Linked DNA regions of Homo sapiens. The protein of the gene in region 1 interacts with the protein of each later gene in a pairwise test. Each region holds a gene or a part of one and is shown in the gene's direction. Other genes may lie near its edges. The genes, in order: CSPG4 and GRIP2.

What was found.
Region 2: the proteins of CSPG4 (region 1) and GRIP2 interact in a two-hybrid assay, tested with the Homo sapiens proteins (one study listed by BioGRID).

Annotation. Positions count from the first base shown.
Region 1 is NC_000015.10:75,699,384-75,714,355, reverse strand, and holds the start of CSPG4 (chondroitin sulfate proteoglycan 4 precursor), read left to right. Parts: upstream 1-1,507; 5' UTR 1,508-1,600; coding exon 1,601-1,688; intron 1,689-14,972. UniProt on the Homo sapiens protein: Proteoglycan playing a role in cell proliferation and migration which stimulates endothelial cells motility during microvascular morphogenesis. May also inhibit neurite outgrowth and growth cone collapse during axon regeneration.
Region 2 is NC_000003.12:14,531,993-14,546,953, reverse strand, and holds the start of GRIP2 (glutamate receptor-interacting protein 2), read left to right. Parts: upstream 1-6,611; 5' UTR 6,612-6,645; coding exon 6,646-6,685; intron 6,686-14,961.

The DNA of each region.
Region 1 (14,972 bases):
GAATGTGCAGGATGACAGAGACGGAGGAGAAAGGATAAGCATTTATTGAGCACCTACCGTATGCCAGGCCCTGGGCTAGGGACTTGAGGTACATTAAAGCATTTAATCCTCATTAACCCAATTTTACAAATGAGGAAACTGCCACAGAGAGGTGAGGGGACTTGTTCAAGGTTTGACAACCAAGTAAGGGAGCTGGGATTTGAACCCAGGTCTCTCTGGTTTCAAGACCAATACTCATAACCCCCACATGGACCAGGCACCATCACACCTGAGCACTGCACTTAGGGTCAAAGACCTGGCCCCACATCTCAGCAGCTATGTAGACTAGCTCCAGTCCCTTAATCTCTCTCAGCCTCAGTTTCTTCATCTGCAAAACAGGTCTCAGTTTCGTTGCAAAGTATGAAGTGCTGGGCTGTTACTGGTCAAAGGGAAGAGCTGGGAAGAGGGTGCAAGGTGGGGTTGGGCTGGAGATGGGCTGGAGCAGATAGATGGAGGGACCTGAATGGAGGAAGTAAACCAAGGCCCGGTAACATTGGGACTGGACAGAGAACACGCAGATCCTCTAGGCACCGGAAGCTAAGTAACATTGCCCTTTCTCCTCCTGTTTGGGACTAGGCTGATGTTGCTGCCTGGAAGGGAGCCAGCAGAAGGGCCCCAGCCTGAAGCTGTTAGGTAGAAGCCAAATCCAGGGCCAGATTTCCAGGAGGCAGCCTCGGGAAGTTGAAACACCCGGATTCAGGGGTCAGGAGGCCTGGGCTTCTGGCACCAAACGGCCAGGGACCTACTTTCCACCTGGAGTCTTGTAAGAGCCACTTTCAGCTTGAGCTGCACTTTCGTCCTCCATGAAATGGGGGAGGGGATGCTCCTCACCCACCTTGCAAGGTTATTTTGAGGCAAATGTCATGGCGGGACTGAGAATTCTTCTGCCCTGCGAGGAAATCCAGACATCTCTCCCTTACAGACAGGGAGACTGAGGTGAGGCCCTTCCAGGCAGAGAAGGTCACTGTTGCAGCCATGGGCAGTGCCCCACAGGACCTCGGGTGGTGCCTCTGGAGTCTGGAGAAGTTCCTAGGGGACCTCCGAGGCAAAGCAGCCCAAAAGCCGCCTGTGAGGGTGGCTGGTGTCTGTCCTTCCTCCTAAGGCTGGAGTGTGCCTGTGGAGGGGTCTCCTGAACTCCCGCAAAGGCAGAAAGGAGGGAAGTAGGGGCTGGGACAGTTCATGCCTCCTCCCTGAGGGGGTCTCCCGGGCTCGGCTCTTGGGGCCAGAGTTCAGGGTGTCTGGGCCTCTCTATGACTTTGTTCTAAGTCTTTAGGGTGGGGCTGGGGTCTGGCCCAGCTGCAAGGGCCCCCTCACCCCTGCCCCAGAGAGGAACAGCCCCGCACGGGCCCTTTAAGAAGGTTGAGGGTGGGGGCAGGTGGGGGAGTCCAAGCCTGAAACCCGAGCGGGCGCGCGGGTCTGCGCCTGCCCCGCCCCCGGAGTTAAGTGCGCGGACACCCGGAGCCGGCCCGCGCCCAGGAGCAGAGCCGCGCTCGCTCCACTCAGCTCCCAGCTCCCAGGACTCCGCTGGCTCCTCGCAAGTCCTGCCGCCCAGCCCGCCGGGATGCAGTCCGGGCCGCGGCCCCCACTTCCAGCCCCCGGCCTGGCCTTGGCTTTGACCCTGACTATGTTGGCCAGACTTGCATCCGCGGGTGAGTGAGGGGCCTGAGACCCCGACCCAGCCTGGCGGAACTAGAGGGGTTCCTCCGGGAGGGAAAAGGGACAGGAGGAGCCAGAAGTGGCCCCCAGATCGGGAGTCAAGCAGGCTGCGCTTCTCCCACCACTAGCTGGGGTCGCCAGGGGTTCAATCCTGGGGCGGACACGGGACCCCGCTATCTCAGGTTATGGGGTTTCTAGCTAGCCAAGGCTGTCCAGTTAGGGGCGGGAGCAGGCGCCCCAGGCATGGATTGCCTAGGGCGTGGCTTTGCCCGTTTGGATTGTCTGAGACACCAGTGGGGCCACCCCAATGCTGGCCGAGCTTTGTTTGCCAGGCAAGTTTGGGGTGAGTATGTTGGGGTCCAAAGGGACCCGGCGACAGTGAGAAGTGGGTCCTCCAGCTTCAGATGCCCTGGGCCAGGAATGGGGAGTGCTACAAGGTGGGAAACGAGGAATGAGCCACCCTGCCCTCCCCTGTGAGGAGCACCCCCACACCCCTCCAGCTGCCCCCCAGCTCTGCCCCTTCTTTCCTCCCCTTGCTTCCTTGCAGATCCGTCTATCTGCCACCTCCCCTCTTCATTCTCTCCTCTCCCTCCTCCTGTTGGTGACAGGCAGGACCCCCCACCCACTACCCACTCTCAGCCTCCTAGAGGGAGAGCTGGTGCCCCTCAGCGGGGCTTGTCCTACAGATAGCTCTGGACCACCCCCTGCCACACCTCCTCATCCCAGCACTGATGCCTGACCCAGCAGAGGCTGAATGGAAGTTCGCTTTCCGAGAAGTGCTGGGATATATCCCCTCTCTGTCCCGATGCCAGAAACCCCAACATGACAGCATTCTTCCTTCAGCGAAGGCAGCTCTAGTTATGCCATAAGAACTGTGGCCTTAGGGCCCATCCATCATCACTACCCACGTGTGATTCAGTGCTTCAGCTACACCTTCGAGATCATTCCCAAGAGCAACATGGAGCAAAGGCAGGGCCTGAGCCTCCTTCACAAGGGCCCAGGCCACACCCTTCTCTCCTTCAGATGGAGAAGCCAGCTCTAAAAGAGGGCATCACATGGTTCCCAGAAGGGAAGTGAGTCAAGGGAGGACCCCCGCGGGGTGAATCAGGGCTGGATCTCCAGGCTCCCTGTTCCTGCAGGGACCAGATCCCCTAAGATCTCAGGGCCTGAGGGATGGGCTGGGCCGCCAGGGAGATGGGAAGGGAGCATCCAAGGTGACCAGGGTGGTCAGCTCATTCAGGCCCCAGCCTCCAGCCAAGGAGGGATTCCAGTACCCCCACCTCCTTGGGCTTCAACTGAGAGCCATTCTCAAATACCTTCTTAGCCCTGACAGCATGCAGGCATGGTGCTAGGCTCGCAGGGGCACGGGAAATTGAGAGGCTGAACTGAGACTCATTCAGGAGGCAGAAAGGCAAATTAAATCTCAAACAGCAAAAATCTGGATGAAAAGTACAGAGGGGAGAAAAGCAGGGGCAAGCTGGGGCAGGACACAGGGTGGGCCTCAAACCAAGCCTTGGTGGATGGGAAGGGAGTCAGTCCTCCAGGCAGGGGCGCTGACTCAGAGGCACCAAGGTGGGCGTAAGCAGAGGGGTGTTGAGACAGGAAGGCCAGCAGCCTGGCTGGGAGGCGTATTTCGAGCACAGGCCAGGGAGAACCACTGGGCTGGGGCACAGAAGCCTTAAATGGCAAAATGAAGCCCACGGCCTTATGCCCTGTTGGCAAAGGAGATGCCACAAGGGTTTTAGGGCAAGAGAGCAGCATGGTGCTGTGGGGTTTTATAAAGTTACACCATCCCCTGCCTTTAGGAGGACTCGGAAATGAGGAGGGGCTGTGAGAGCTCCCGTCCAGCAACCCATCTCTGTCACCACTCCTGGTCCAGCTGCCTGCCCTGATTTCTGCAGTAGGGGCAGCCCCTGCCTGAGGAAGGCGTCCCTCCCACCCCTCCTGGATGCCCCTGGCTGCAAAGGCCCTCGTCCTCCCGTATCCGAATGAGGCGTGCTGGGAGGCTCTCCCTCTACTCATCAACATTTGAGGCATCCAGGTCAGGGGGCCTGGCAGTCAGCACCCTAGAGGCCATCTGGGCCAATCTTCCACTTGTATAGAGAGGGAAACTGAGGCCCCAGAGAGGAAGAAAAGTACTCTGAGTTCCACCAAGAACCCCAGCAGCCCAGGAAGAGCCCCCAGCCCTGCTTCGAGGGTGCTCCCAGCCTGCGTCGGGGCCTAGGCTTGGGCCACTGAGACAGTGTGGGTGACAGATGCGGTGTCCAGCTCCTTCTGAGCTGTATGGGAGGCCCCAGCAGAGAGCCAAGCATTGGGGGAGATTGGATTTGAGCTGATACTGGAAGGACAGGCAGAGAAGGAAGGAGGTGACATTCTAGTCGGGGGGTCACAGTGAGCACAGGGCAGGCAGGGGTGGTGGCTCCCACACCTCTTCCCTGGCATCACTGACTGAAAGGCAGAATGTGAGGGGTTGAAGTGGGACCCAGGTTGGGGAGTACCTGGCAGGGAGGGCTTGTGTGTTACCTGGGTGGGGACTCAGAACTGATGGGGGTATCTTAGTGAGCAGGGCCACAGGGACACCAGGTACAAGAAATTGAAGCAGGGTAGATCCTGCTGCCTCTGAGGATGGCTTGGGGGGACCGATGGTGCTCGGGACAGGCACTGAGCCTTGTGTGCACCTTGTGTGCCACCCCAGGCCTCCGGAGCAGGGCAGGGCCCAGGGGCCAGAGCCCTTGGCCCAGCCCACCCGGACTCGAGAAAAACTGTTCTAGAGCAAGTGTAACGGAGCCTCCCTCCCTACGCCTGCCCGCCCGGGCAGGACAAGAAGGGCCTTTTAGTGCTGCCCGCCTGGGGGGCCTGGGGTGGGCCATGCCAGGTGGGCCAGGCGGCTGTCGATGACGGCAGGAGGGGAGTAGGGTGCGTGTGGAGCTCTCAGAGGAAGTGTATAGGCTGTGTCTGGGAACTGGGCGTGCTGCCCAGGAGGGGCGGGCAGGGGAGGGGGAGTTGGAAATAGCCTTGACGTCCGCACTTACTGGCGCACACAGATGTGGGCACACACACTTGCACACGGCCACTCTCACAGACCTGGACGAGGTGGCTACTGCCTCTGTCTCCAAGTCCCCTACCTTAAAGATCTGGGCCAGTGGCACTTGCGGGGAAGGAAGTGAGCACAGGATGGGGACAGGGGTGCCACCTGAGGTGTGTCTTCTATTCAAGGCCAGGGGCAAATGAACAAGGGGCCTGTGGGCATGGGACTGAGGCCTGGTCCCTCCCTGGTCCCTCTGCTCCTTCACTGCCTTTCCCCCTGACTCCCGCCCCATCCAGCTCTCCTCTTGCCTCCAACATGCCCTCCGCCCCAGCATATGTCAGTTCAATAGAGCCTTCCAGAGTTAAGGCTCTTCCTCCAGCTGCAGGCTTAGGGCAGGTTTCAGATTTACTGTATTACCATTCCTACTGAGTTTGTATGAGGAATTTTTGAATGAACTGAATTTGTATGAACAATTTTGTACTTGGCTCCTCCGTGGGGCAAGGGTTCCTAGCTCTCTCCGCTTCTCAGGAGGGTCCGTAACTCCAAACAGGAGAGGACAGAGCTGTCTTATTGCTGTGCTCTTACCTTCAGGGACACCCCATAGTGTGCACTAACCATGTTGTTAGTCCTGCAGCCCCACAGCAGCCCTGCAGGTCAGGAAACAGTCACTGCAGCCTCAACCTCCCAGGCTCAAGCGATCTCCCCACCTCAGCCTCCTGAGTAGCTGGGACTTCAAGCATGTGCCACCACACCAGGGTAATTATTTTTTGTAGAGACGAGGTCTCACTATGTTGCCCAGGCTGGTCTCGAACTCCTGGGCTCAAGCAAGCCTCCCACCTGGGACTCCCAAAGTGCTGGGATTACAGGTGTGAACCACCATACCTGTCCAACAGTCCTATTTTACAGATGAGGAAACTGAGGCTCAGAGAAAAGCAGGGACTGCCTCAGGTCTCTCTTTGGGCACACAGGCCGTGGTGTTCTCACTCACCCCAACAGCAGCGAGTTTCCCCACATCAGGCCAGGTGGACAACCACCCACCAGTGGGCTCAGGCCCCAGCAGGGGAAAGAGAGAGGTCTGCAGGGACAGACAGCTCGCTGAGGACTCCAGATGTTTGTTCTGTCTCCCCATCCCCCACCAGCCAGCGTTCTCTCCCTTTCCAAACCCTCCCCACTTTCTCACAGCCTAAGCAAATCCCCTTCAAAAAACCCTCTCCCCCCAAAGCTAGGGTTGCCAATGAAGCCACTTTTGTCTCTGATGTAGGGTGATAGCTGTAGGGCTGCTGTCAAGGTGGCCTGGTGGCAGGGGTGGGCCCCATCAGGGACAGTGCCTGTCCTGTTGAGCATTCCTGCCTCTCGCTCAGCTCCTTCCCACACCCAGGCCGGCTCCCAGCCTGTGGAGGAGGCCGCTGGCTCTGCCAGCCCTGGCATGCATGCGTTAGCCAGGCCTCCAGCCATCGCTCCTGCTTCAACACTTCAGTGTGTGGCTCTCCTGCGGCCTAAGGTTGAGGTGTGTCAGTGACGCTGCCTCCCTTCCCGGAACTTACTGCAGAAACCCCTGACCCCAGACCAGCCCCCCATGGATCCTGGGGAAACCCGGGCTCAGACAGAGGAGCCTGCTTGTTCAGAGTCACACAGTGAGTCCTCAGGAGATTAGGGGGAGGGCTCCCTACTCTTTGGCCCTGGTTTGGGGGGTAGCTTCACCCTCAGGACCAGCAGCTCCCCGGGAGCACACATCCCACCTGCTTTGCTCAGGGGTCTCCCCCATTGTAGGGCTCACAGCCTGGCCCCCAGAGGGGTGTAGAGATCACTGAGCCAACCAGGGATTTTCTGACTGCACTCCAGCGCACCCCAGGGCTCTCCAGCTGAGCCGGCCTGGAGGCAGCTGAGCTTGGGAATATGGGACGCCTGCCCCACCCCAATTCATGCAGAGCCACTCCACAAACCTGTTTATAGATTGGGTTCCATGAAGATTGGTACTAAGGGCCCTTGGAAGATGTCCTTCCCCAAGTCTGGGAGCCTGGAGGCCGGGAGCAGAAGGTGGTCCCAGCTTCCTCACAGCAGGCCTGGGGCTGTGTGGCCTCTCCTGCCCCAGCTTCCCACTCCTGCCCACTGCCTGCTGGCCCTCACTCCACACTGGCTGAGTGTCCCTTATCTGAAATGTTGGGGACCTGAAGTGTTTCAGATTTTGGAATTTTTTGGCTTTTGGAATATTTGTTATATATAGTGAGATATTTTGAAGATGGGACCCAAGTCTAAACATGAAATTGATTTATGTTTCATATACACCTTATACACATAGGCTGAAGGTAACATTATAGATTTTTTTAAAGAAATTTTGTGCCTGAGAGAAATTTATGTTAAGTTCTTATGTGTGGAGGCCAGGCGCGGTGGCTCACGCCTGTAATCCCAGCACTTTGGGAGGCTGAGGCAGGCAGGTCACCTGAGCTCAGGAGTTCGAGACCAGCCTGGCCAACATGGTGAAACCCTGTCTCTACTAAAAATACAAAAATTAGCTGGGCGTGCTGGCGACACCTGTAATCCCAGCTACTCAGGATACTGAGGCATGAGAATCGCTTGAACCTGGGAGGCAGATGTTGCAGTGAGCTAAGATCGCGTCACTGCACTCCAGCCTGGGTGACAGAGTCAGTGAGGGTTCATCTAAAAAAAAAAAAAAAAAAAGTTCTTATGTGTGAGATTTTCCACTGGTGGTATCCTATTGGCACTCAAAAAATTTTGGATTTAGGGGCATTTGGATTTTGAATTTTCAGATTAGGGATGCTCAACTGTGCTGTGCTATGTCCTTCTCTCCCCAAATATATCATCCTCCCTGGTCAAGGTGATCCTGTGTCCCACGGACTGGCTGATCAGATAGAACTAGGCCATCAGATAATAATCCACAACCGCTGGCACCTTTCCACTTCTACTCAAGCTGCTCCATGCAACAGGCCTTCCCTTTTCCCCCATCCTCCAAGGCTCAGCTCCAGTATCGCCACCCCCAGGAGCCTGTTCTAACCACAGATTGCTCTGAGACCCATGACCTGGATGGCCCCTCTCCTGGGGCCCTGCCCTCCATCTCTGTGGGGTTACAGGCCTTTCTTCCCCTACCCTCACCTGGCCTCTGTCCCCGGTTCATGACCTTCTTCAGCCTGACACCCAGTAAGTGCACATGCGTGTGTGTGCACACACACACTCACACACACACATACACATTCACACACACATACATACACTCACACATACACACTCACACACACGCAGTATTGCTCAGTAGGCAAGGAGAGTGTCCTGCCCCGAGCCAGCAGCCCCAGGGAAAACCCCCAAAATCAGGACACAGTGCCTCGTTCCCCCGCCAGGGCAGGCCCTCTGGCCTGGGCCAGTCCACTCTCTGGGGAGACAGAGGGGGCTGGGGAGAGGAGACGAACTTCCGTTCCCACCTAAGAGCAGCCCCTTCCCCCACCCACATTTCAGGAAGGGGCAGCTATAAATACCAGTGGGACCAGGACACTGATTCCCACGACACCCGCTTCTCCCTGCCCCTTCCCTGTGCACAGTTGCTGGGGCCAGACCAGCTCTCCTGCAGCTAGAGTCCAGCCAGGCAGGCCTGAGGCCTAGCCACACACACACAGAGACACAGACATACGCACACAGGCACACACAGACATAGATACACACAGACATACAGACACAGACACATGCACACAGACACACATACGCACACACACACGCACACAGACATATACACACAGGCACAGACACACACATATGCACACAGACACATACAGACACAGATACACACACACACTTTTACTTCCCACCCTGGTCAAGGAGGAGCAAATCACCCTTTTTGGGAGTCTGCGAGCAGCTGAGAGGGAGCCCCTCCCCTGCCCCTCAGCCCTGACCCAGGCCCCATCTCTCCCTCCTCTGAGTCCTGAGCTGTGGGAACCCACACAGGGAAGCAGGAGGCCAGGCACATGGTGGTGAAACACGGCATTAGAGAGCTCAGGTTGAATTCCAGCCCTGACGCTCTATGCATGACCTTGGGCAAGTGACTCTGTCTTTCTGAGCCTCAGTTTTCTCCTCTCTAAAATGGGGATAAATAATTCCAACCTCTTACGTGTTGTAAGGATTAAGCAAGACACTTTGCCTGGAATCAATGCTCGGTGGACATCTGCTCCTGAAGCTGCAGTCACTCTGCTATTAGCATCTTCTTCCCAGGGTGGAGTGGCCCGGCAACATGGGGACTTCTGCTTAGGAGTGTTTAAGGAAGATTCCGAGGCAAAGGCCTAGAGGAGGTGGCCCCGTGAGTCTGTGTGGGACTAAGTGACATGGAAAAGGAGAGGTGGGCTCTGGAGAGGGTATCAGCCAGCGGCTGCCTGCCAGCCCAGGACCCTTCAGAAGGTGGGAGGGGGTGGGGGTCTGCATCTCTGTGGCTAACTGGGCTGAGGCCCACACCCCTCTCTCAGTGCTAGAAGAAGTGGGGACAGCCCCTGCCTGGCCCTCCCCAGGGCCTGTTTCTCCCAAGCCTAACAGCCCCTAGGATGGGGCTCACTGGGCCGGGGCACAGCAGGAACCCCCTGTCCCCAGAGCAGGTGAGTGAGGAGAAGAGAATGAGCAGGCCCCAAGACCTTTTATGGGACGGGGACCCTAGAAGCCTGTCTTTTCCCTGCTCTCTACCAACCCCTCGCGAGTCCCTCTCTGGAGGTGGGGGCTGGAGGCCAGGGCCCAGGGACGTGGGACAGCTCACCTGCCAGAGTCACCATGGGGCTGTTACCACCACTCATGATATAAGCAGTGGTGGCTGCATCACGAGGAGCAGAAATCCGGACTGAGGGAGGGGACAGCCCTCTCCGCTCTGGGCTGCTAGGACCCCTCAGTGGTATGGGTGTATGTGAGCTCAGAGTAGGGGGAGGTGTGGGGAGGTGACTGAGGTGACTGCAGAGTGGGGTGCACAGCTCGGGGCAGGGACACTGGAGGGACCCCGGACAAGGGCAGGCCTGTGCCTGAGCCCTCAGGGCAAGATCCCATTGTGCAGGCCCCCACTGCCTTCACCCACGTAGAGGTGACTCTTCTCCACAGACCCCTGGACAGGGCCCGGCCAGGCCCCCCACCCACATGTTTTAATGGAATCCAGGTGGCTGCCCCTGGCCAAGGTTCCATCTCTGGGCATCTGGGGCCCGTGTGCTTCTGGCCACCCATCTGGAGCCTGGCTGAGCCCCTCCAGGGGTGGGTACTCAGACGGGGGCTGTCCCTCCAACCGTGGACAGCCCTGGGGCCAGCGAGATATTGTAGAGGCCTGAGCCAGCTGGCTGATGGTGCCACAGCCCTTGGGCTACCTGGCCCTGCTATGTGGCCTTGGGGAGACCCCTGGCCCTATCTGGGCCTCTGGGTGGAATCTTCAGTCTCCTAGGTCAGCTCTAAATTCTGAGCTTGAGCCTCTTGGGAACAGGACAGGGGCCTCTGCCTCTATCTAGAGAGAGCCAGCTGCTTGTCCTGGGCCAAGCAGCAAGGCAGGCTAGGCCTGGAATGGGGCTGAGAAGCAGCCCAGCCTGCCAGGACTCCCTGGCATTGGAAAGCCACTTTCCTAAGTTGGCATGGAGCCCTGGGGCTCCCCCCGGGATGAGAGCAGCGGCTCCTCTCCACCCCCGGCTCCCATCTTCCACCCCCTGGCCCCAGCCCCGCCCTGCCAAAAATAAACCCAGACCACCCCATCTTGTACCAGCCAGACCCACCCAGCCCCTCCAGAGCCAATTGAGTCACCACTCAGAGCTGCTCCTTTTTTAACTGTCTGAGTCACTGCTTGTGGCTCCATGACACATGCCCCAGGCTACGGTTACCCCACAGCCCCTACAAGCGCAGCCAAGGGAGGGGTCTGCGTAGAGGCTGGCAGCAGGTGTGAGTCCAGGCCATAGCCTTAGCTTGTGAGCCCTCCAGGCCTAGGGAACTCACTCCATAACAAGCCAGAGACCAGACCTGTCCCTCAAGGTCCCGGCCGTGCCCAAGACAGCCCTTGGGGATCTTGGTGACAAGGTCAATCTGGGCTCTGCCCCACCGCATTGCGTTGCCTCCAACAGGCCTGGGCCTTCCCCGTGGAGACTGCCGGGAACGGAGGGTCTCCAGCCCCTAGACCCTGGAGGCTGGGGGTGGGCGAGGCCACAGAGACGCCTGCTTCCTCCCTCCTCACCGGCTCCACCCGGACTCTGACCACGCTGCCTGGAGCACCATGAAGACTCTATGGGACGGAAGCCACACTTCAGTCTCCCCTCACGGCTTCTGTCTGCCCCTGCGCAGGGTCACCCGGGCTGCAGAGCACCCCCGATCTCTCAGTCCATCCCCCCATCCCGCTCTCTCCATCTCTCTGTCCTTTCCCACCCCTGGCTGTGGTTCCTCCATCTCTTTCTGTCTGTCTTTCCTACCCTGTCTCTCTGTCTGTCTGCCCATCTCTCCAGTCCTGCTCTGTTCTCCTTCCCTTCTCCTTTACCGGGTTCCACGGCAGTCAGAAGTGCTCCCTGCCGCCAGCACCCCACCCGTCCCCAGGGCCCTCTCTGCCTTCTCAGTAGACATAACAGACCCTCACCTCCTCCCATTCCCACAAGGGACTCTGGGCCCCAGGGACCAATCCTGAGAAATGTTCCGCTCCCCTCACCAGGTCCTCCCGTGCCCCAAAGTGCAGGCTACATCCTGTCCCAGGGAGTGTCAGGATCCCACAGGCACTTCCTTGGGGGTTGACAAAGGCGGGCAGGGGGGCCTGGGAATGGCCCCACCTCCCAGTCCATGCTAGAGCAGGGGCCTGTAAGCCTCAAACCCCATCCGTCTTCTGTCTGTGGCTGTGGCCTCCGGCTATAAATAGGGGCTCGGATTCTATTTTCTTTAAAAACAAGCACCAGACTCTGTCACCACAGGCCCAGAAAAGCAGTCTCTGGCTCTGGCAGTCCCTCGAGCCCTCCCAGGCCATAGTGTCCAGTCCCCTGCCTCTGAGCCCTGGGGCTCTGGAGGGCAGAGGAGGCCTGGAAAGGAGACTGGAGGTAAGACAAGGTGGGGAGGGCTGGGGCGAGCTCCCAGAGGCAGCCCCTCCCACTGGGCCCATGGCCCTCATGCCCTGGTGGGCCCCTCCCTCCTTTCCTCCCACGTCCTGTCCCCAAGCAAGGTCAGTCTTGTCCCCAAGGCTCACAGTGTAAATGGAGAGAGGTGACAACAGCACAGCCCCCTGGGCCGCAGCGAGTGTCTTTGCACCCCAAGGACACAGAAGGTGCTTTGGGCTTTTTTCCTGAAAGAGCATGAGGACATTTCACAGGTGGACAGGAGAGAAGAGCTGGCCCAGCAGCAGGCCCAGCCTGAGCGAAGGCAGCAGGTCGGCCCTGCTAGGTGTGCACGGAGTCAGTGCAGAGTCTAGTGAGACGGAGGCGTGGAGTGTCCTTGGAAGAGAGCAAGAGACCCTGCAGGCAGAGTTGAGGGCACCCTGGCCTTCAGTGCCACCCGGGGGTGGGGGCCTGACCCTGGGGCAATGGGAGCCACCAAAGGCAAGGGAGGCTGAGGGAGTGGCTTTCAGTTTGGGTTAACTGGGGCTGCTATTAGCAAAGGGAGTCAGGAGATTGATTAAGCCAGACCGAGGACGGTGGCCAGCCGCCTTATGGATGGACCAGGGAGCAAGAGAGGAAGATGAAGTTGAAGGAGAATTTGGGGACTGGATGGATGGAACCTGAGTATTAATCAGCAGTGGCTGTGGGGAGGGAGGAGGAGGAGAGTTCAGTGCGACCCTCAGATGTCTACTCAGCAACAGGTGGACAGTCGGGCCTTCACGGGGCTGGCGAGCCAGCTGTAGGGGAGAGTACACTGAGTCCTCCTTGCTTTGGGTGGGGTTGGGCTTGGGGGTTCCTGTGGGTGTTCCTGCCATGGACATCTGAGGGACACTGGCAGTGGGCCTGGAGCCCTGGAGAGTTGGTGCCAGTGAGAGAGACGTGGTGCATTAGCAGAGGCTGGGCCTGAGGCCGGGAGAGAAAAGGAGGGCCAGAGGGAGTGTGGTGGCGGTGGGCACAGCTCCAGGGGGGGCCCACAGGCTGCAGGCTTCCAGGCAGTTGGCAGGTGGGGGTGCTAGGCAGGAACCTATTCCAGGAGGAGTCAGGCCTGCCCAGGAAGAGAGGTCTCAGTCTCGGGATCTCTGATGGGCCTGGGTAGCCCAGAGCTTCACTAGCAAGGACACTGAGGTTTCCTGGTGCACCCCCCGGCAACGCCCTCCCACTGGAGCACCACCAGTGCTGGGACTTGCTGTGGTGGGACAGCTCTGCCTGATAGAAAAACCCTCACACGGGACAAATGCCATCTCATTTGATCCTTTCGTTCCCTTAGATGCTGACATCACCTCCCTCATCACAGGTCCATGGCCTTCTTGCTGCACAGATGCCCTGGGAAGGAGATGTGGGCCCTGGTCCTGTCCTCAAGAGCTTCCAGTCTGGCTAGACCTGTGGCCATTTAGGCCAGAGGTGGCTCTACTGTACCCACGGTAGTGGCCACACCTCTTGCCAGTCTGCTGGGCTGGTCAGAGGCCAGATGTGTGTCAGTCCCTCTATCCAGGTCCCCTTTTACAGATGGGGACACTGAGGCCAGGGAAAGCATGGAAGCACATGGCTCTGAGCCCTGTGTGTGTGCTGGGGGTGTGAGCCCTGACCCAGGCTTCTGCCCTGGACATGGACTTCTGTCTGTGGGGTGAGCCCACCCTCTGTATTCAGATGGGGGAACTGAGGAGGAGGCACACAAGGCTACTGTGCACAAGTTGTGCCACCAGATTTCAGGTCCAGGCAGCCGTCCAGACCCACAGTCACCATTTCCTCTGTTCTTCCCCCATCCCAACTCACACACTCACTATCTCCAGACCCAGCCCGCCAGGCTGGGGAAGCCCCGAGACGCCGCCCCAGCAGCCCTGTCTTCAGCAGTTTCTGCTGCCAGAGCCAAGGGGAACTCAGAGATGAGCCATGGGCTGCCTGGTCCTGGACACAGCCCAGGAGAGAGCCTGGCCCTCAGCCTCCTGGGGGCAGCTCCCACCCAGACCCCTGTCTCTCCACCCTCCTCCCAGACCTCCAAGTCACCAGTGGGCAGGGCTGGCACTTATCACTGGCTTCTGGACCTAGTCATCCCCCGCCAGCCCCTGCAGAAGGGCCCTCCCGATTCGGCCAGCCCCAGAGCCACAGAGGAGGGGCTGCCAAACCGCCCAAGGAGAGCAGATGCTTCCCTCCCCTCCTCGCTGTCCCCCCCTCCTCGCTGCCCCCTCCACCCGGCCCTGACAGAAGAGTCCCAGGGGACAGGAAGGGAAAGAGTGTGTGTTCCCCAGGCTGGGGTCCAGCTCTCACACCCTCCTCCCACTGGGGCCATTGGCAGATGCTCCACTTCCGATTCACAGGCAGCAAGCAAACCCACCACGCCTCTCTGGGTGCACACACGGTGCATGTGCCCTGCTGACACCCACAGCCCCTAGCTCTGGAGCCACACCCACAGGAGCTTAAGTCCCAGCCCTGCCGCTGCTCCACAGGCTAGCACGGAGGACTGCCCTCTCTGAGCCTCAGTTTCCTCACCTGTAACATGGGAGATGCCTCCCAGGAGCCCTGCTAGGGCTGGGGGGCTGTGCAGGCCCAGTGCCAAGTGAGGGTCCTTCACTCTTCTCTTCCCTGCCAGAAACCCTACCCCAGCCTGGGTCCACTGAGGTGAGGGTCCCAGGTCCTCTAGGGCCAGGAAAGTGGGGGAAAGGAGGGTACGGATGGAGCCTGGAAACCCACCCATCTCCCTGTCCAAGAGGGAAGATTATAAGGCAGGGAAAAGCCTCTTGGAACCGCTCCCCACCGCAGCCACCCCACCCTCCTCGCCTGAGGCCTGGGGAGCAGCAAGACTTCCACAAAGACACCATTGAGGCCCCGCTTCCTCCTCCCCCGGCCCAGCCCTCCCGCCTGGGTGGACTCTGGGCTGCTTCTTCCCTCAAAACCTCTCATTTCCCCTCCTGCTTCCTCTGTGCTCCACAAGGCCCCAGGGTTGGGACATGTGGCTGGGAGCCCAGGGTGCAGCCCCTATCAGCCTCTGTGGACCAAGCTCAGCTTCTCCCACCCCACCTGCCCCTGCTTCCACTCATCTTCCAGACGGGTTCCCTCAACTGGAAATGTTCCCCAGCACATGCCCCTCTACGTGGGTGACTCAAAGCGCTTGGTTAGAGGATGGTAGCTGAGGCCAGTGACCAGGGTCAGGGCCCAGCCAATAGCTGAGGAAACTG
Region 2 (14,961 bases), on another chromosome or scaffold:
CAGGAGTGAGGGTACTGGGACACAGGTGGCCAGACATGGAATTTCTCCTAACACCACCAGGTGCTGCCACTGTGGCTGCCTCAGTTTACCCCCCACCAGCTGTGCTGTGACTTTCCATCTCCATCTCCCCACATCTTCACCGGCTCTTGGTTTTGTCTGCATTTCCAGCATTTGCCATTTTGAGGAGAGTCAAGTGGGAGCTCGCTGTTTCTGTTTTCACTTCTCTGGTGACAGTTAGTTGGGACACCTCTGCATGAACTTGGGGTCATTTGCCCTCCACGCCCTGTGCCTCGCCTGTTTATAGCTGGTGCCCATTTTTCTTTTTCTTCCTGTTTTGCATCAAGATACATCCTGACTCCATGCTTTCTGACCTCTCCCACTGGCAATTCCTCAAACGTGCCCTATTGGCTGTCATTAGAGGAGCTTTGATGCTCAACTGAAGGGGAAAATGAGGCTCAGAGCAGAAGGGACCTGGATTCCAGATCTCCCGCCTCTCAAGTGCCTGGCCCATTTCCTCCCTCAGACCCCTCACCCCCGTGCCATCCTGACCCTTGCAGCCCACTCCCGGTAGTTGCCATTGCAAAATAGAAGTTAGGTCACAGCACGACCCTGCTAAAAACCCTCCCCTCACACTCAACAGAATCCCAACTCCTCTCCCTGGCCTCGGCCGACCTTGTCTCTGTGCGTTAGCTGCACCTGCCCCTCAGCTGCTCCTGGTACCCAAGCTTGGTCGGCCTACCTGGAACCTCCTCCTCCCTTTGTGCCTTCTCATCCAGCTCCAGGCAGTTACTGCAGAGCAGTCCCCTCCCTCTACCCCACCCACAGGTCCCTACGGGGTGTGAAGATGCTGGTGAAGGAGACCTGGGGCTCAGCTTAAAGGTCGCCTACTCTGAGAGCCTCTCCCTGACCACCTGCCTTGTATTCTCTGTGCCAACATCGTGACTGTGTCTGTCACAGCCCTCGGGACCATCTCAAATGCCTTCTGTCTGTCCGTCTGTCTGTCTTTCTTGCTGGATCTCTGGTCCTCCCTAGACCAGAAGCTCTAAGAAAGGAGGGTCTGCCTGCTCTGTTCACTGCTGAAACGTCTGGCCCAGCTGACCTCTGGAAGGTAGTAGGTGCTTAGTAAATATTCTCTGAGTGAACAAGTAACCAGAGAGACAGGGCAGGGCCATGATCAGGCTGGCCATCTCCCTGTGCCCACATGCTATAGTTTTTTAGGTGTTTCGCTCATTCACTGAGCTTCTCAACAAAGACCTTGTTAGTACAGACAACTTCATCATCCACATTTTAGAGGAGGAACCTGAGGCTCAGAGAGGCCCACTGTACAGCTGTGCTCCCATGTCCTGTCCTCCAGGAGGGAAGCTATTGTGGGTGTCAAGGGAAGCATGGAGCCCAAGAGGGAGCCCCTGGGAGCTGCCCCATCCGTGGCCAGGCCCCTGGCCTGCTGGTGACTTGACCCTGCCCAGTCAGGGGTTCCCAGCCCCTCTCAACATGTGTTTGTCGCTGGCTGGCTGCGTTGGCCCTCCTGACTCTGTGTTCACATGCCTGGGCTGTGGAGAGTGGTTCGGTGTGTGCATTTCTCGGGGCCACTGGGTGGGGATGCTGTCAGGCAGGCCTGGGTTCAAACCCTGGCTCCCCCTGACATTCTGCCTAAGGGCAAGTGGCTTTACCTTTCTGGGCCCTGGCTTCCTCATCTCTGAAGTGGAGATGTTCCTGGGATGAAATGAGAAAATGTGTGCAAAATGCTGGTCACAAGGCCTGGTGCGTGGAGTCTCTGCTCCGATTATGTTAACGGTGGCTCTTCCCAACATTCTGGACACCCCCTCTCCTGGGCCTGTCCACACGGCTGCCATGCTTTGCTCTTGCGGCTGTCGGAGCCTCCTTGGCCTGTGGCCTTGCGTGTTTTCCTGTAGGCTGGCAGGCTCTGTGGGTCTGAGGCTCACAGCTTGGGGCAGCCCACTGGGTGGCACTACTCCTGAAGCTCCTCCCAGCCTTCCCTGAAGTCAAGTGAGGGGCCATGAGGGCTGGGGAAGATGTGGAATACCTTGGACAGAGTGAGGACAAGACCAAACAGCGCCCCCTAAGAGGGGGTCCCCTAGTGCCCCTCCCCTGTGGCTGGTGGAATCCCAGACTGAGCCTCAGTTTCCCCATCTATAAAATGGGTACGATAATGCCTACCTGGCTGAAATGTTTAACAACAAGATGCAGGTTCTGAGAGGACCAGGCAGGGAGGGAGCAATTGTCCTGGCCCGGCCCCTGGGGTGGAGGGAGGAGGGTCGGAGGAAGAAGCAACGGACAGCCCAGAGCAATAAAGGTTTATCTCTCTTGTCCTTGAATTGCCATTGCTGCCTCCCTCTCACCCAGACTTCATTTCCGGCTGTCACTCAGGGCCCCTGGTGGGCTCAGGACAAGGCTCGCCTGTGTTATGACGGACTCAGCCCTGGAGTCAGAGATGAAGGACGGAGGCCTGGGTCCAGGCCCTCGCTGTGCTGGTGGGGCACCCCCGACAAGGCCCTCTGTGGGTCTCAGTTTTCCCATCTGCGCAGCATGGGCTTGGTTCTCAACTACAGTGGCCACTAGCCTCTGGGTGGGAGGGGCTAGGGGTGCTAGGAACCCTGCAGTGTGAGAGCAGCCCCGCACAAGCAGAATGCCCCAACTCTAGTGCCAGTGGTGCCCCACTGAGAGACAATGTGAGGGACCTGCAGGCCTGGCCCTGCGTTGGGAAGAGCATGTGGTGACCGTGAGTTTGCAAAACGCTTCCAAGGTCTCTGATCCTCACTCCTCACAAGGGGCAAAGTGAATCTCAGACAGATGTGACTTGCCTAGGGTCACACAGCTTGTGGGTGGTGGAGCTGGGATTCGAACCTGGGCATGTCTGACCTGTGTGCTTAGCTCCCTTGAAATTCTGTTTCTGGCCTATTTGACGGCGTTAGTTTGAGACTTTTGGCGGGCAAGTGGGTGGATGAATGCTTTCTGTTTCATTAATACGTGGTCTTCCCAACCCTAGAGGGTAGGTGTTTTTATTATTCTCATTCTACAGCCGAGGAAGCTGAGGTCCAGAGAGATTTGGACAAGTGCCCCGATCACACAGGAATCCGTCTTCCAGTTGTCTCACAAACCTGGGGACATGGAAGTGTCAGGGCCCCTCCTGACCAAAGAGGGGCTGCCTGCCAGCTCAGTGGCCCTGCCATCTCCCCTGGGCTGCTCAGCCCCCTCGCATGTCACCCACAGCATTTGAAACATGGGGCAGTCAGATGCTGTCCTCAGGAGCCCCTGGTGGCCTGGGTGCTTGGCAGGCCTGGCTTCCAGCCACCTTGCATGCCCAGGCAATCTGTTCCCCTTTTCTTCTGCTTCCCTGAAGTTGGCAGCATTGGACAAGAAGGATCGTCTTTGGAGGGTGATCAAGCAGCAGCTTTGCCTCTTCTCATGTCCTAGAAGGAGCCCTTGCTGCTCATTCCTAGGCCGCCTCCCAGACGGAAATCCTTCTCTCACCTACTGTCAGCCTGCACTCTGTGTTTGAGGTGCTTGCAAAGCTGTCTCACCCCGCTGCACTACAGCTATCCTTAGCTCTCCATTTCCTGCAGGATGAAAGACAAACTCTTTAATACAGCGCTCCTCAAACTTCATATGCATCACCTGAGGACCCTCTTAACATGCAGCTTTTGATTTGGCGGGCCTGGGCGGGGCCCGAGCATCTGCGTGTCTGACAAGCTCCGGGTGATGCAGATGCTGCTGGTCCTCAGACTGCACTTGGAGGAGCGAGACCCTAGTAGACCACCCCAGGCCTGGCTGTATCTCTGTTTCCTTCTTTGTCTCCTCACTTAGTCATGTGGGATTTCGGCCATGGACTCACACGCGTGCAATGGCTTTTTCCTTCGTGGACAAACTCCTTCCCATCCTTCAAAGTCAGTCTAAAAAACCCTTCTCAGTGGACTCCCAGACAGAGCTAATTCCTCTTCCTCTGCACACCCAGAAGCTTTACAAATCCCTGAAATCCTGAGGCCCATAGCAGTGCCATTAAGAATAGCGGTGCTGGTGCCAGGCCTCCTGAGTGTGAAACTTGGCTCCATCCTTACCAGCTGTGTGACCTTGGGCAAGTTGCTTAACCTCTCTGTGCCAAGTTATTTATTTAAATTCTGTCTTGTTCCAAAATGGGCCAATAATTGCTTCTGAACATGCACTTGGATAAAATCAAATGAAAATGTGCTCAGTAGGGTGTCGAGGACAGAGGGCAAAGGGGAGATGCTGTTTCCCATCTGCCTACATTGCATAGCATGGCAAGCACTCAGAGAAACGCCACAGAAGCTCTCCCATAATCCACGGCATGACCTTTCCAGGAGCTTGGGGGTCCACAAAAGTAAACTCCAAAGGAGCAGTGAGAGAGACAGAAATGTGGCAAGGCTTCCAATTGCCAATCTTAATCACTCATTTAAATGCATCTGTATGGAGAGCAAATTTTTTTTAAGAGAAGGAGCAGAGAAATGAGGCAAGGCTTCCAATTGCCAATCTTCATCACTCATTTAAATGCACCTGTATGGAGAGCAAATTTTGTTTTGAGAAGGAGCAGATACAGGAGTTTGAGACCAGCCTGGGCAACATGGTGAAAACCTCATCACTACAAAAAATGTAAAACTTAGCCAGGCATGGTGGCACCTGCCTGTAGTCCCAGATACCAGGGAGGCTGAGGTGGGAGGATCATCTGAGCCCAGCCAGTGTGTTGCAGTGAGTGGAGACTGCGCCACTGCACTCCAGCCCAGGTGACAGAGTGAGACGCTGTGTCACAAAAAAAAATAAAAAAAATAAAAAATAAAAAGAGAGAAAGAGAAAGAGGGAGAAAGAAGGGGCAGATCTAACTCCAACTGCCTGGGTGCCATGCGCCTGTCCTCCCTGACTGAAGAGGCTGTAGATGGAGGGAATGGAGGCGAGTGGGGTGAGGATCTGTTAGAGCAGTTCACATGCATTCCTTCCCGCGTGGTTGAAGCTAAGACTGCTCCAGAGTGGCCTCTGTGCCCTGGTGAAGGCCAGGGTCTTCATGGCGAGCCTCTCCCTGACCACTGCCAGGGTACCGGTGGCCAAATTGAGTGCGTGTACCCCCGTCCCTGCATGATTTGAGTCGTCCAGGAAATGTCCACTAAATTCAGGTCTTCCCTCTGCAATCTGACCCTCACCACCCACCCTGTGGCTGAGACCTTGGCATCACTGCTGGTCAAGGGAAACTTGCCTGGCACCTGGACCCTTCCCCCAGAAACAGATCTCAAGTTGCCCAAAGAGGAAGGCACCATAGGAAGTGGGCGGCAGGGCAGGGTCTTGAGTTTGCAGATACAAAAGCACAAGTAGCCCTGCCCCAGATTTAGAACCTGGATTATTCTAAAGGTGCCACTAGCGTTGGGCTGGCAGGAGCCAGTGTGGGGCGGCCCAGGAATTGTGGCTAAATTCCATGCTGGGGTCACTGTTCTGGAGGGAACCCACAAGAAACCTCGGGTCCCTAACTACCGGGCAGCCCTCTCCCACTAGCTGCAGGGCACATGGAAGAAATATGAGGCTCGTGTGTTCCCACGCGGTCAGGAACTCCATGGGAGCCAGGCCTTGTCTGTCTGGTTCTCTGTTGCCAGACGCACTGTGCAGTTGTACAGGTTGTTGACATCCACCATTCAGTGCCCTGTCACCATCACCCCACCCTTCTTGGTGTCTGACCCTCAGTTGGTGCCAGCACACACTGGTGGGATGGAGGGCAGGGGAAATTGGGTGCAGCCTGCCACCCCTTCTCACAGACAGGTAGAGGAGGAGCCTCAGGTGTCCATTAAGATCAGCCTGGTCAGTCCTGAGCCAATGTGGAGGAATCCCAGGAGTGTGCAAGGCTAAGGCCCAGCTGGGTCTGGGACGGGGCAGAGCCTGCCAGGTGTGGCTGGAGCCTGTGACCAACTGGCCCTGCCTATCAAGCCCAGAGGCGGGCAGATCCTCCACCCAGCTCACTTGGTCTTCACAAAAAGCTGGGTGGCCACTCCACGTGGCAGGCTGCCGGGTTCATCTTTCCTAAGTCCCATTTTACCGAGGGAAAACTGATACCTAGGAGAGGTAGTTGGAACATTGGTGGGAGGGCCCTGGAGGGTCTCCAAGCTCAAGGGTTTCTAAGCTGAGACCTACAGAGACGCCCTGGCATTGTTCATGCAGTCAAAGAGTCTGTGCTTCATCTAGCTTATGTCCTGGGGTTCTGTGCAAATTCTCTTGGAATCTGCCGTTTAGAAAAAAAAAAAGTTTGGAAAGCACTGTTCCCTGTCTCCAGATGAAAAAACTGATGCCTAGTGAGGGAAGAGTCGTTTGCCAAAGTCCCAGGGCAAGTTAGAAGCAGGCTCTCTCTCTGCCTGAGAGCCCTGGGGGAAGCCCCAGGCATGCCACCTTCAAAGACCCCCTGTCCAGACCCAGGCTGCAGGGGTGGGGCATGTTGGACCCTGTCCTGGAGCCAGCCTTGACAATAGCCATGTCCCCTTTAAGCAGAGAGCCGCCCGCTGCAGTGGGTGGACTCGGTGCCCAGCCAGTGGGAGCTGTGAGCTTCCCTCCCACAGCCCCTCCCTGGGGAGGGGAGGGAGGGCCAAGCAGCGTGGCTCCCGAGGGAGTTGGTGGGCAGCAGGGGAGACAATAGCGAACATGCTGTGTGGGCTCAGCCGGGAGACCCCTGGAGAGGCGGGTACGTAATGGGGGGTCTGTGGGCAGAGTGATGGGGCTGAACACATAGATCCCTCTGGAGCTGCTGCCCAGAGAGAGGGGACTGGATGGCTGAGACCTGGGACTGCCACTCCCTGGAGACCCAGGGCTTGGGGAGGGTGGGGCAGGACACTTGCTGGGGCTGTCTGTCTGACCCTGGCCACTGTCCTGTAGCAGGATGGCTGAGCCTCCCCCAGGGCTGTCCAGCACAGGCAGGCAGAACAGGCGGGTCTGGAGGTTCCGAGGGCAGTGCTCAGCCTTGTAGGGGGAAGGCTGGTCCTATCTGGGTGTGAGCGAAGCCTTTTGCCCAATCTCAGGATCTGCACAGCTGCCTGGTGGGAGTGAGTGTCCGACCCAGAGGGGTGAGAGCCCAAGGCCCATGGGCAAGGTGGTGGTGAGGAGTTCCTGTGCTGGCACAGCTGGGCAGGAGACTGGTTCTCGGCAGGAGGAGAAACTCTGGTTTGGGGGTCTGACTGGTGAGCCCCTGGGGCTCTGGGAATGTGTGGGATGGGGGATCACAGCTGCCACATTCCTGGGTGTGCTGAGGCTGGGACCCAGGGGAGGGGCAGACACGATTGTTCCATCTGTCTCTCCAGCCTCAGCCTGGGCTCACCCTATTCCTCCAAAGAGGGAGCTTGGGGCCTGGACCAGAACATACTGCATTCACTGCCCTGGGGTTGCCTCACTGGTTTCTTCCCACGCTCTTGACATATCTTTGCACCACAGCTCCAAGGGCAAGGACTGTGGTCCCAGTGGACAGAGGAGGAAACCAAGGCTCAGGGAGGGCAGTGGCCGAGCTGGGATTGACACCCCGATGACTTTTACTGCAGAGCCCCCAGCCCTGCTTCTGAGGGCCCAGTGGACTTTGATTCCCACCTCCCTTCCCATGGCAAGGAGCAGAGCCAGGTCACCTCTGGACCCAGCCTTAGCGACCCAGGAAAAATAACACTCATAATCATAATAGCTGGCTGTTGTCGAGAGCTTCCTCTGGGCCAGGCTCTTTTCTAAGCTTTCTGTGCATTTTCTCATTTAATCCTCATAACTACACTGCCACTTGGGTACTGTTATTCTCTCCATTTTGCAGTTGGGGAAACTGAGGCAGAGAGCTGCTAAGTGACTTGTTCAGGGTTATATAGCCAGAAGTGACAAAGCTGGGATTTGACCCGATGGGCCCACCCATCCTTGGCAACTGCACTGTAAATGGAGGCTCTGCCTTCTTGGCCTGGACACATCTGTTCTTTCAACCCAAGGCCCAGGTGAGTGGGGTCACCTTGGTCTGCTGTGGTCAGGGCCACAAAGGCAGCAGTGCCCTGGAGACCTTACCTGGGGCACTGCCAGGGAGGTGTCTCCCCCTCCTCATGGGCCTGTGACCTCCACCTCGGCCCAGGGTCAGCATCAACTGCCTGGGCCTTTGCCCAGTCTCCTCCCTGGCCTGGCCTCCACCCCTTTGCTGCCATGGGAGGAAGCTTGCCAAAACACAAATCTGCTCAGCTCCTAAGCCTTGCATTCAAGGCCCTTCCTGACCTCTCTGACATTTTCTCTCTCTGATGACTTACTTGACCTCTACCCTCACCACTGTAGCCTCCACCCTAGGTCTCCTCCCCAGGTCACAGAACCTCATGATCACACTTGCTTCAGTTTGCATCAGCACCAAGGCTCTTCTTCCAAAAAGTGTAAAGATGGAGCTTCAGGCACAGTGGGATCCAGATGCTCAATTAACATCATTAGGACTCTGGGTCTCTTCGTAGCTTGCTCTGCTTCACTTTAGTGAGCTTCATTTCCAGGCAGACTCTCTCCTCTCCTTGAGAGTTCCTGGCACCTTCAAACTTAAGGTCAACCAGCTCAGTCATCCCTAAGGAAAGAGAGCCTATTTCCAGTAGTTCCAGCAAATGCCCCAGAAACGGCTCTCATTGGTCCAACTTGTATCACATGCCCACCCCTGATGGATCGCTGAGCCTCTGATTGGCCAGGCCTGGTCATGTGACCTCCCCTGTTGCTGGTAAGGACAGCCATATACCTCCACATTTGGCACAGAAGACTGCAGCCCTGAGAAGTCAGCCCACTGGCAGTGTGCGTCAGTGAGTGCCCCGATTGGAGCTGGGCTCTGTGGACCAGGCAGCCCTATGCCCTTTCTCTGCTCCTGATGGACTCTGGGTGGGTCCCTTCTCAGGCCCCACACCCTGGGCATGTCGTCTCACTCCAGGGAGTCTTGCTTTCCTGTCACTAACCCCAGAGTTCTGGCAGGAAGGGACTGTGACCTATCTCCATTGGCCCAGGCTGGGGCACACAGTAGGCCTGAACACAGATTTTGGCAGGAAGTCCCTCTCCATGTTCACTCTCCTGCCTTGAGGACGGGAGGCCTGCTCTGACTCCGCAGCCACAAAGACATCTTTGTTCCAGGCCTGCTAGGTCTGAGCAGGCACTTGCTGCCATGCTGGGGGCAGGGAAGTCTCAGTGGGTGTGGGTGTACATGTGTGAAGGTCCCCCTGCTGTGCCCTGGGCTACCCACTCCTCCGAGGGGCCCTCACCAGGCCTACCCCTTGGCTCTGAGACTCCTCAGGCAGGCCTGGCCTCCTACTCCACAGCAGGGGCTGTGGCCATGGGGGATCCTTCGCCTGAGTTTGCGTCCTGGCTCTGTCTCTTCCTAGTCTCTGACCTTGAGAAACTCATTCCACCTCTTTGATTCTCATTCTCCTAATCTGTAAATGGGAATTGAATTAAAAAAATATTTGCTGAGCATGTACTACATGCCAGACAATGTGTGCGCTGCACACAGCAGTGAGCAGGCAGACAGAAGCCCGGCCCCCTGGAGCTGACATCCCAGTAAAAATAGTCGTAAATATTTAGATGGTGTTGATTGCCCAGAGGAACATGAAGCAGGGAGGGAGTGGAGAGGAGGTGTGGAGGTACAGGGTGCGTGTGTAAGTTCCAACAGGCGGATGGGGAAGGCCTCCCTGAGGAGGTGACATTTCTACAAGTTCCCGAAGGAGCTGAGACGGGAGTTTTGATGATGTCTGGGGAAGAGTTTTGTGGGCAGAGGGAACAGCCGATGCAAAGGCCCTAGGGGGATGTGAGTCTGGTGGGCCTTGGGTCGAAAGGACAGATGTGTCCAGGAAGGCTTCACCTCCCTTTAGAGTGCAGTTGCCAAGGTGGGGTGGGCCCATAGGGTCAAATCTCCGCTTTGTCACTTCTGGCTGTGTAACCAGGAACAAGTCACTTAGCATCTCCATGCCTCAGTTTTCCCAGCTGTAAAATGGGGAGAATAACAGTGCCCAAGTGGCAGTGTGGTTATGAGGATTAAGTGAGAAAATGCAGTGTGCTGGAGTGGAGCTGGCCAGGGCGAGCATCAGGAGGTGAAGTCAGGGGACCGGGGACTGACAGTTGTGGTGAGGACTTCTGCTTCTACTCTCCCTGAGCTAGACACAGTCTTCTTGTGACTGCAGGCAGCCGCCATTGGGAAACTGAATGGTTCTGTGGGTGACCCTGATTTTGAGGTCACGTTCCTTGACATTGCTGGTTTTAGAGTAGGGCAGGAGAGCAGGACCCAGAACGCAGAAGGCCAACCCCCAACTTGAGACTGCGCCCCCGCTCTCCCATGGTGGGATGTTGGCCTGCGTGTGGCTCAGGCCTGCTGGACAGGAGCCCCTCTCCCTGTGTGGAGGAGGATTGTGGGGGTGGCGGCCTCTCCAGGTGATGCCATGGGTCCTGCTAGCCCTGATGCACCCAGCCTGTGAGTGCCTGAGCCCTAACTTAGGTATTCTTGGGATACTGGAGCTGTCACCTTCCCAGTGCCCTGATGCTTCTCATTTGGGGTCTGTTGCCCTCCTGTTTGGAGGGAAAGAGCAGAGCCAAGGGTTCAGGGCATGGTCTGTTGTGAGGTCAGGGAGCCCTGGGTTCCAGGTGCCTCTGCAGCTCACCAGCTCAGTGGCTTCTCTGGGCCTCAGGCTCCCTATCTGTAAACTGGGGACAATCGGTGAGCCTCCCTCCATGGTTCTTAGGACAATTAACTGACTTAGCATTCATAAAGTGCTTAGAGCAGGCCTGGCCCAGGGAAGGGCCCAACACTGGGTGCTACTTATTAAGGTTCTTTATTTTTTTCTTTGCAATCCTTGGCAACAAATGAATGAGGCTTCAAATTTTTAAATGTATTGATGCATTTCTTTTTGTCTCCCTGAAAAACGTGCTTCTGCCGAGCTTATCTGATCTTTCTATGCTGCTCTCCCCATGGAAGCTGGGCTTCCTGGGAGGCTTGTCGCCCGTGGGGATTGGAACTGTCATTCAGAGGTCAGCCTGTAACTGGCTTTGAGGCATCTCCATCGAGCCCTTGGCCTGTTCCAGCCCTCAGTGGCCAGGGAGGAACGCCCAAAGGAGCTGGGGCTCTGCCTGGAGCCGAACAGCCCCGGGGCTGCAGGCATTACAGCAACTTCCAGGCTTGCATGGATGGGGGAGTAGGCAGGAAGGTACCCAGAGGGTAGGGCCAGACCCCTTAGGGAGCCAGAAGGCCTGGGCTTCAATCCTGGCTCTGCCACTTAGAAGCTCTGTGCCCCTGGGCAGTTCCCTTGACCTCTCTGTGCCTCATTAGGCCTGGGTTCAAACCCTGGCCCTGCCCTTTATCATGGGATATCACTTAACCTCTCTGTGCCTCAGTTTCCTCATCTGTAAAATGAGAATCATGATTATACCGCCTCAAAAGTGGTGAGGATTAAATGAGATCGTGCTTAGGAAGCACAGAAACCAGCACTTAATCACTAGGAGCCATCATCATGATTGATCTAGGAAAACCTTTCAACAAGGTGAGGGAAGCAGGCAGGGAGGGAACTGCCATGTTTTATGGTTTCTGTGCACACTTCCCCACAGTTCCTCCCAGCAACCCATGAGGTGGGCACCAGTACCCCCATTTTGCAGAGGAGAAGTCTGAGGCTCAGAGAGAAGTGACTTGTCCCAGATCCCTTAGCCAGTTGGCAGCCGATTTAGAATCAAAGTCCCAAGTTGGACTGACTCCAAAGCCTATCCCTCCCTTCCCACCATATCAACAATCCCTTCCATGGTGGGGCGAAGCTGGCTGGGGCTGGACCGTCACTTGGTGGAGTACTTAGCGCCCATGTCCTCTTCAGCACCCAGGGTCCCGGTGAGCTGGCATGGTCCTGGCCGACAGCTCACCGTCCCTGCAAATCATGTCCTGTTCGCCCCAAGTGGAGCCTCTGGGCATTTGTTTTCTCAGTGGTCCCTTTTGAGATGCTGAGTCCTCCCTCCAGGAGGCTCACAGAACAGGGCAGCAGTCAAAGCCGGCTGACTTTATAGTCCCACCCACTCCCCCACGCTTCTTTCCAGCCACCCGCTTAGGCAGGACCCTGGCGAAGGCAGCCTGGCAAGGAGTTGACTTCCTTTTCCCTTTGTCAAAGCTCAATAGCCCCCTGAGGCCCCAGAGAGCGGGAGATAATGAAGGCAAATTAGCCATGATTTCAAGAGAAATAAAATAAAAAAGAAGGCCACCCACCCCGGCTGCAGCGTGGGCCTGAGTACCAGGTGCACAGGTCTGAGCTCCAAGCACGTTTCTCCCTCTGTCCCTCCTCCCCTGACTTGCACACCCCACATTCGCCGGGACTGGCTGGCACCACTGCGGAAATGAATTTTCCTCTGAAGCGAGTTCCTACAGGACGATTGACTGAAGGCAAAAGCTCATAATTGCCCGTTGCTGGAAGGAGGAGACAGGGAAAAAAAAAAACATGGATAAAAATATCTCTGTTTTTTATGCACGTTTCCAGCTGAAAATTGGTGGGAAAGATGTTTTTGAAAAGCCTTCATCTCTAAGCATATAATTACCAGGTCCTGGAACAAAAAAGAGAGAGTGGGAGAGAGCAAGCATGTTCTCTGAGGAGGGGGCCTAGGGTCTGACCCCCCCAAGGGGTTTTCTATAAATAAAGTAATCCCCTCAACTTCTCAAGCTCTGGCCAGCTGGAGTCAGCCATGGGAGAGACACCCCCATTTTACAGAGGGGAAAATGGAGGCTCGAGTCACACAGCCAATTGTAATTCTAACCCTATTTTGATTCTTGGTTTGGATGCTGCCTCAGTTCCCCCCCATCTGAGGATGTTCGTGAAAGAGAGGCCCTATGTCCCCTCTGAATAGGCATCAGCAAACACTGCAGCATTCCTTCCGGGCACCTTTCTGACTATGCCAGGGGGTCTTGGGTGCTCAGAAGCCTCTCATCTGGCAACTCGCCTATCAAGAATGGCTTCTTGACTTCCACAAGAGGCCACCAAGGGCACACCCTGAGATGCCTAGGGAAGTCTCTCGAGGCCTCGCCTGCTGCCCACTGACTCTTTGCGCACAGTAGTATGACTTGTTTTGCAGCACGCAGTCAAGTCTCTGACAGCTGGGAAAAGAGATGGCTCACAGGCTGAACCCCAAACCGGCCAAAAATTGTAGCAGGAAGGGAGTTGCAGCCACTCGGTGTTGAGACCAGCAGACTCCGGCACCTCCGCTGTCCCTAAGCTGTCACTGTAACCCACTTTAGCACCCGGTAGTGCACTGGAGCAAAATCTGAATATTGGGGTGAGGAAAGGGAAGACAGGCAGTGTCAGAGACAAACTTGGAGGGCACCACGGAGACCCAGGGCATGGGTCCCCCCCTTCGCCAGCCAACATCGGGCACCCTGTGCTTCAGCATCCAGCTCTTGGGGGTGCCGTTGTTCCTCCGTCTGAATTTCTGACTTGTTTTTACAATTAGGGCTCACAGCTCCACATCCACTCTGGGATTCCACTGCTCTGAATTTGGTGAACTTGGGCTTTGGCTTCCTTATCCTTTCCTTAAGAGATAATCCTTCTCCCTCCCCCACTTTTCTCTTAGGATTCATAAACCTGGAGCTAGCAAGCTTATCTCTGGTCTTCCCAAGACAGCTGGAGATAGAGAGGGATTTTCCAGGGACAGAATCTAATCTGCACAGGATAAGACGTATTTTAATTCCAGAATTGCCCTCCTGAAATACCAGAGACGTTCACTGTCACACAGTTGATAGAACCCAGTCTTTTTGATTTTATTAGCTCAGAAACATCTTGTTGAATCTAAATGAAGTGCGTATTAGGAAACCGTAATGGGAGGCATTATACTTAATGGGGTGTCGCCTGAATCCGTGGTGGCTGATGTGAACTGGAGGTGGAAGGCGGATGAGCGGAGCTGCTGAGGACCCAACCCCAGGGGACCTGGAAATGATTCCTGGCTTAACTGCTATTTGATTTGTTATTTATCAGCTGCTGGCAAGCAAAGAGAGCCCAGCCCTGGTCTGGCGGAGCACGGTAGTTGGCAACTGGGACCTTTCTCAATGGTTACAGCTGCAGGTGGGAACGCTGTCAGGCTTCCATAGGCCCAAGTTGACCAGCAACACTGACTCAGGCTGAGCCCCGCCCTCAACTCAGCAGTATCCGGCCCGGAGCCAGGCTGAGCCCCGCCCTCAACTCTACAGGATCCGGCCCGGAACCAGGTTGAGCCCCACCTCCGACTCAGTCTGCGCCCAGCCCTTAAGTCAGTCTGAGCCCCGCCCTTAACTCAGGCTGAGCCTGGCCCAGACCCAGGTTGAACCCCCTCCCCTAACTCAGGTTGAGCCCCACCCCTGACCCAGGTTGAGTCCCCTCCTGACTATAGAGCAATGGTTCTCTGTTGGGGGCGATATGGTTCCCCTAGGGCACGTTTGGCAATGTTTGGAGTCATTTTTGTTGGCCACAGATGCTCCTGGCATCTGGTGGTTAGAGGCCAAGGATGCTGCTCAGCTTCCTACAATGCAGAAGAGAAGCCCCCACCACAGGAATCATCTGGCAAAAAATACCCATAGTGCGAAGGCTGAGAAACCTCCCGTAGACTGAGCCCTGTTTCCGGTTCTGGCTGAGCCCTGACGCTGGCCCAGACTGAGTCCTGACCTTGACTCAGGCCACTCATACCCAGGCTGAACCCTAATCAGACCCTCCCCTCATGAAAAAGACCTGGCTGGAGCAGAGTGGGGAAAGTGGCCTCTGCCACCTGCGGGGACCAGACCTTCTCCCGTCTTTTCTCCCGCTGCCGCTGAGGATGGGAGGGCGCGTGGGCCGCTGGGTCAGGTCTCACTTTCCATGGGTGTGAGGTTGGGGAGGAGAGCGAAGTTCCCACAGCTGGCGAATGGCAGAGCCAGGATCTCTACTGAGGCCTGGCTGACCCCTGAGCCTCTTCTGCTAACACTAGGCTAAGCTGGAGCCGCAGAGGTTGGGGTGGTAGGAGAGCCCTTCTTCA